Linked DNA regions of Homo sapiens. The protein of the gene in region 1 interacts with the protein of each later gene in a pairwise test. Each region holds a gene or a part of one and is shown on either strand. Other genes may lie near its edges.

Evidence for each region. Proteins that work in one complex are often made in the same cells at the same time.
Region 2: the proteins of CABP5 (region 1) and ZNF664 interact in binary tests that used the Homo sapiens proteins (3 or more experiments, as listed by UniProt).

What each region holds. Positions count from the first base shown.
Region 1 is NC_000019.10:48,034,080-48,037,579, reverse strand, and holds part of CABP5 (calcium-binding protein 5), read left to right. Parts: intron 1-3,217; coding exon 3,218-3,365; intron 3,366-3,500. UniProt on the Homo sapiens protein: Inhibits calcium-dependent inactivation of L-type calcium channel and shifts voltage dependence of activation to more depolarized membrane potentials. Involved in the transmission of light signals.
Region 2 is NC_000012.12:123,979,715-123,983,214, reverse strand, and holds part of ZNF664 (zinc finger protein 664), read right to left. Parts: intron 1-3,500. UniProt on the Homo sapiens protein: May be involved in transcriptional regulation.

The DNA.
Region 1 (3,500 bases):
AGAAAATTTTAAGGCCAGGTGCAGTGGCTCATGCCTGTAATCCCAGCACTTTGGGAGGCTGAGGTGGGTGGATCACCTGAGGTCGGGAGTTTGAGACCAGCCTGACCAACATGGAGAAACCCCGTCTCTACTAAAAATACAAAATTAGCTAGGCGTGGTGGTACATGCGTGTAATCCCAAGTACTCAGGAGGCTGAGGCAGAAGAATCGCTTGAACCCGGGAGGCAGAGGTTGCAGTGAGCCAAGATCGCACCACTGCACTCCAGCCTGGGTAAAAAGAGCGAAACTCCACCTCAAAAAAAAAAAAAAAAAAAAAAAAAAGCTGAATAGTATTCCATTGTGTACTTATGCCATGTTTTCTTTATCCACTCTTCTGTTTTGATGGACACAGGTTGCTTCCATACCTTGGCTATTGTGAATAGTGCTGCCATGAGCAGGGGAGTGCAAACATCCCTTTGATATACTGATTTCAATTACTTTAGATACATACCCAGAAGTGGTATTGCTGGGTCATATGGCAGCTCTAGGTTTAATTTTCTAAGGAACCTCCATACCATTTTCCATAATAGCTGTGCTAATTTCCATACCCAGCAAAAGTGTACCAGGGTTCCCTTTTATCCACATCCTCACCAACACTTGTTATTATTCATCTTTTTAACAGTAGCCATCCTAACAGATGTGAGGTGATATTTCATTGTGGTTTTAATTTAAATTTCCCAAATGATTAGTGATGCTGAGCATTTTTTTCACGAACTTGTTTGCCATTTGTCTGTCTTCTTTAGAGAGATAGCTGTTCACGTCTTTTGCCCATTTGTCTTCTTTAGAGAGATGGCTGTTCACGTCTTTTGCCCATTTGTCCTCTTTAGAGAGATGGCTGTTCACGTCTTTTGCCCATAGTTATTAGATTGATGCAAAAGTAATTGTGATTTTGCCATTAAAAGCAATATTTGTCATTATGCAGTATTATTAATTATAGGCACAATGCCACACAGCAGATCTCTAGAACCTATCTTGCGTAACTGAAACTTTATACCCATGGTACAATATCTCCCCATTTCCCTGTCCTCCTAACCCCCAGCAACTATCCTTCTACTCTCTGCTTCTATGAGTGTGGTTATTTTAAGTACTTCATATGTAAGTGGAATCATGCAGTATTTCTCCTTCTGCGTGGTATATATTTAAATGCAATATTCAGCCTTACAAAAGAAGGAAATCCTGCCCCACACAACAACACAAATGAACCTGGAGGACAGTATGCTGGGTGAAATAAGCCAGGTACAGAAGACAAGTATTTCTAAGTGTCTTGCTTGCTGCTCCGTGCTCAGTCCCAAGAACGGTGCCTTCCACATGGGCACTACTGACACATTTTTTTTTAGCAATATGGATACATATGTGTTGAATTAATGAACTGCCTCCAAAGCTCTGCCCTGCACACCCTTAACTAGTCTACCAGAAAGTCTAGTACGTTCAATTTCCAAAACATCGGGGAGTGAACTCTCCTTCTTGAGCTCTGCTGGTGCTAACTGGCTCAAACCACAACCATCTCCTACCAGGATGATCATGGCGGCCCTCTAATTGGTTTCCTGGCTCCCATCGTGGTCCTACTGTGGTCTGTTCTCTACACAACAGGGTTTCATGCTCACATTCTTTTAAAATGTATATCAGATCTGGTCACTCCCCTGCTTAAAATTCTCCAGTGGCTTCTTGTCTTACTCAGAACCAAATCCTGACAACGTCCCATGACACACAAGCCCCTACGTACTTGGGCCCTGCCTTCTGCAACACTGAGACCTTGTCTATTTCATGCTCATTTCTCCCCAGCTCACGCCTCCCTAAACACTCCCCACTTCTGCCTCTTCCTCAAGTACACCTTCCTGCCTTACGGCACTTGTTAACTTGCAGCTTCCTCAGCCTACAGCTGTGTCATCCAAAATAAATACAATGTAAGCAGCATGGGTCATTTAAAATTTTCTTTCTCTTTTTTTGAGACAGTTTTGCTCTTGTTGCCCAGGCTGGAGTAGAATGGCACAATCTTGGCTCACCACAACCTCCACCTCCCAGGTTCAAGCGATTCTCCTGCCTCAGCCTCTCGAGTAGCCGGGACTACAGGCATGCGCCACCACGCCTGGCTAATTTTGTATTTTTAGTAAAGACGGAGTTTCTCCATGTTGGTCAGGCTGGTCTCGAACTCCTGACCTCAGGTGATCCACCCGCCTTGGCCTCCCAAAGTGCTGGGATTACAGGCATGAGCCACTGAGTCCGGCATATTCAGCTTTTAAAAAGAAGGAAACTCTATCATTTACAACAACATGAATAAACATGAAGCACATTATTCTAAGCTATATAAGCCAGGCACAAAAGGACAAATACCACATGATGTTACATGCAGAATCTTAAAAAATTGAACTCATGCAAATAAAAAGAAAGGTGGTTAGCAGAGGCTGGGGAGCCACAGAGAAGGAATGGACAGTTGCTTGTCAAAGGGTACAAAGTTTTGGTTAGACAGGAGGAATAACTTTTGAGATCTATTGCACAGCAGGATAACTATAGTAAATAATAATGTATGTTTCAAAAATCACCTAAAAAGTAAGTTTTAAATGTATCGCTGGGCACTTTGGCTCAGGACTGTAAGCCTAGCACTTTGGAAGGACAAGGTGGAAGGGTTGCTTAAGGCCAAGATTTTAAGACCAACCTGGCCAAAATAGTGAGACCCCGTCTCATTAAAAAAAAGTTTCGGCCGGGCACAGTGGCTCAAGCCTGTAATCTCAGCACTTTAGGAGGCTGAGGCAGGTGGATCAACTGAGGTCAGGAGTTCAAGATCAGCCTGGCCAACATGGTGAAACCCTGTCTCTACTAAAAATACAAATATTAAACAGGTTTGGTGGTGCGCGCCTGTAATCCCAGCTACTCGGGAGGCTGAGGGACGAGAATCGCTTGAATCCAGGAGGTGAAGGCTGCAGTGAGCTGAGATTGCACCACTGCACTTCAGCCTGGGTGACAGGGTGAGACTGTCTCAAATAAAAAAAAAAAAAAAAAGAAAGAAAAAAAGAAAAAAAAAAACAGAACAAAACTGTCTTTTGGAGCTGACGTTCTAGTGGCTCACATTCCCAAAGCTTTTATCTCAGTGCTTGACCCACAGTAAGCGATAGGTAAACTCCATCATCTCGTGGCTATCATCATTGTCATTGCTGATATAATCTATTTCTGCTTCTATTCAGTTTGACACGAATGGAGATGGGGAGATCACCCTGGTGGAGCTACAGCAGGCCATGCAGAGACTCCTGGGGGAGCGGCTCACCCCCCGGGAGATCTCTGAGGTTGTCCGGGAGGCTGATGTTAATGGAGACGGCACAGTTGACTTTGAAGGTGACATTGACGGGGCGTGGTGGGGAGCGGGGGCAGCCACCGCAGGAATCCACTTCCAACTCACTGTCAGATTTTCCAAGTTGGCCACTCCTTCTCACTCCTCTCCAAGTTTGAGAATGGAAGCGGGTGGCAGGT
Region 2 (3,500 bases), on another chromosome or scaffold:
CCACCTTGTGACTCTCCCACATGGATTAGCTGTAGCACAACTTGCTTGCTTTCTTTTTTTATTTTTTTGAGACAGGGTCTCGCTCTGTCACCCAGGCTGGAGTACAGTGGCGTGATCATGGCTCACTACAGCCCTGCCTTCCAGTGATGCTCCCACCTCAGCCTCTTAAGTAGCTGGAACCACAGGTGTGTGCCACCATGCCTGGCTAATTTTTGTATTTTTGGTAGAGACGGGGTTTTGCCATGTTGCCCAGGCTGGTCTCAAACTCCCAGCCTCAAGCCATCTGCCTGCCTTGGCCCCTCAAAGTGCTGGGATTACAGGCATGAGCCACCATGCCCAGTAGACACAACTTTCAACCTGGGCTGAAAGACTTCAATTTGCTAAATCTAAGATTCACTCCTGATCCCTTTATTACATCTCTAGGCCGTTTGAAACTACTGCTCCTGTCCATTCTTGAAACTTTCTAACTTCCAGGACGTCTCTCCTGAGTGTCCTCGTCTGCACTCCCTTCTAGCCAGTCCACCAGGCTCACACTAAATGAATCTGCTCCTGTAAGCGCTGCAACAGTAAAACCGATACGGTGAGCGTGGAACCCAAGCTAAGCCAATCAGATTGTCCTTCTAGAGAATTTGGAATTGGGAAGTGGGAAGTGGAAAGACTGGGTCTGTGATGTGAGCTGGCAGAAGTTAGAGTTTCAGAATGGCCTTCCAGAGTGACCACCTGGGGTCACGTGTTATTTACTGCCAAGCGAGAGAAGAGATTAGGGGGAGGGCAGGCACACATAGAAGCATAGGGCAGACACACAGTGAGCAGGAGAAGCCTGGGAGATGAAGGCAAAGAGCACAGCCACACTGACTGCCACCAACTTCCCAGCGACTGGGCCCCAACCTCTGATGAAGACATCTACCTTCCTCTCTAATGACTTCTGTTACCTTGGCAGGCACTTTCTCCGCTACCTTTTCTCCACTTGTCCTTCAAGGTACCCATGCTCCAGCCATACTATTAACAGCCAGGTGGGCACTCACACATGGATGAAAGGGCACCACTCTGCCTATTTCCTGGCCTGCCCCTACGTGGAAGGGACCAGTTTACCAAGATGAAGAGAAATCACTCCCAGAAGTCAGGTGTACTCTGACAACAGGATGACTGACAAAAGGACCACTAATGCCCAGAGGAACCTCCACCACCCACTCAGAGAGGCAAGAGTCTACCCAATGAACCCCAAAGACAATCATGGTATTATCTGAAGTCGAGGTCATGCAGTCTCAAATAATTCTATGTGAAAAATATCAATGGTCCAGTCTATCTAGACAGATATGCCCCAATTTACAGAAGTACAACTATATTGCAAGAAAAATTTACCATGTAGAAATATTGATTTTAATACCATAGCTATGTATAGTATCTAGTCATTCTTACAGCAAAACATGTGTACTGTAAAATTATTCTTTGTAAATCCTCTTCGTGACACACCTATGTGTCCTATAAGACCTTCAAACTCAAGTACATCCAAAACTGAATCAGTCACTTCCTCACCAAAGCCTACTATATTCCTGTCTTAATCTGTTTTCTATTGCTTACAAGAGAATACCTGAAACTGGATAATTTATGAAGAAATTTATCTCTTACAGTTATGGAGGCTGAAAAAGCCCAGGACCACATCTGGTGACAGCTCTCCTGCTGGTGGGGACTCTCCAAAGAGCCCTGAGCCGGCACAGGGCATCACACGATGAGAGGGGGCTGAGCATGTTAACATGCTGTCTCAGATCTCTTTTCTTTTTATAAAGCCCCCAGGTCCCCTCCCATGACAACCCATTAATCTATGAATGGCTCTGCCCTCATGAGCCAAACCTCTGAAAGGCCCCACCTCTCAACACTGTCACATTGGGGATTAAGTTTCAACATGAGTTTTGGAGGGGACAAATATTCAAACCATAGCCAATTCCCAACTATAGTAAATGAGTCCACTCTCCCCTCAATTGCCCAAGTCAATATCATTGACTTCCCCCCATCACAAAGGTCTAGCCACTCTCTTCCAAATACCTCTGGAAACTCTCCACTGTGTACCTGCATTGTCTCAACTTAACTCAAGCCACCATCATCTTCCCTGGAATTCTACAAAAGCCTCCAGTCTTGCTTCCCTCTAATCCATTATCTACTCTAATGTAACCTTCTAAAATGCAAAATGGATTGTTCTTACCCTACTCACAAGTTTTCAATGGGTCCCAATCATTTTCAGTGTAAATTCCAAATTTATTCATTGGCTTTAACCAAAAAAAAAAGTGCTCATGTCTATTTGCCATGTAGCTATCATGTCCCAGATATACTTTGTTAAATCAAATGTTCCATCATACATGTAATACAGGTACATGTAATCTTGGCAAATACAAAAAAGATTATTTAAATCACCCGACATCCTACCGAATTCCACAATTCTTAAGATTTCCATCTAATTTCTTCTACATATTTTTGCCATTCATAGGTTTTACTGGAAGGCTGCTGGGACTTTTTTTGGGGCGTTTTCATCATATCAGGTATACAATTGTGTATCCTGATTTCCTTCCACTTAACACTATCATAAGCATTTTAATATATTTTCTTCATAAACGTTTTTAATGGCAATGTTATTTGCCACTAAATATATGATATAGGGGATGTATCATAACCATTCTGCAAACTGTGCCCATAAATATAATTCTACAATATACATATTTTGTGCAGAAAGCTTTTCTCTGTATTTAAAAATATTCTTTTGATGGTTCCTAGACCATCAAGAAATGTAAATAATTTTAAGACTCTTGACACATATGGCCAATGTAACATAAGAGTGTGTCATTTTTACCACATCCTTTTAGGTACTAGGCACTGTATATTTTTGTCTAAATCTAGACCTTCATGAAATTGGTGAGAAATTGTAACATCTTCCTTACAAAAGTAAATGCCCATTGTAAAAAAAACTGAAGCAATGCAAACACATGTGATATGAAAAACCAGTCTCCCCTAGGCTTTTCCCATGAAGTAATCAGAATTAAATGTTTTCAGGTATTCTAGTCTTTTTCTAATTCTTATTCAGAATATATATATATACACACACTCACCCTTCATTATTTTGTTTTGTATCTTACAAAAAATGAGATTAAGCTTGCTTTTTTGGCTCAACAGTATATTCTAGACATCCATACAGGCTATGTCAGTACATACAAATCTACCTCTCTATATAAAAAACTAATAGGCTAGACATGGTGGCTCATGCCTGTAATCCCAACACTTTGGGAGGCCAAGGCGGGAGGATCACTTGAGGCCAGGAGTTCAAGACTGGCCTGGGTAACGTGGTGAGACTCCGTCTCTACAAAAAAAATTTAAAAATCAGCCAGGTGTAGTGGTGTGTGTGTGTGTGTGTGGTCCCAGCTACTTGAGAGGCTGAGGCAGATCACTTGAGCCCAGGAGGCTGAGGCTACACTGAACCACATTCCGTACCACTGCACTCCAGCCTAGGCAAC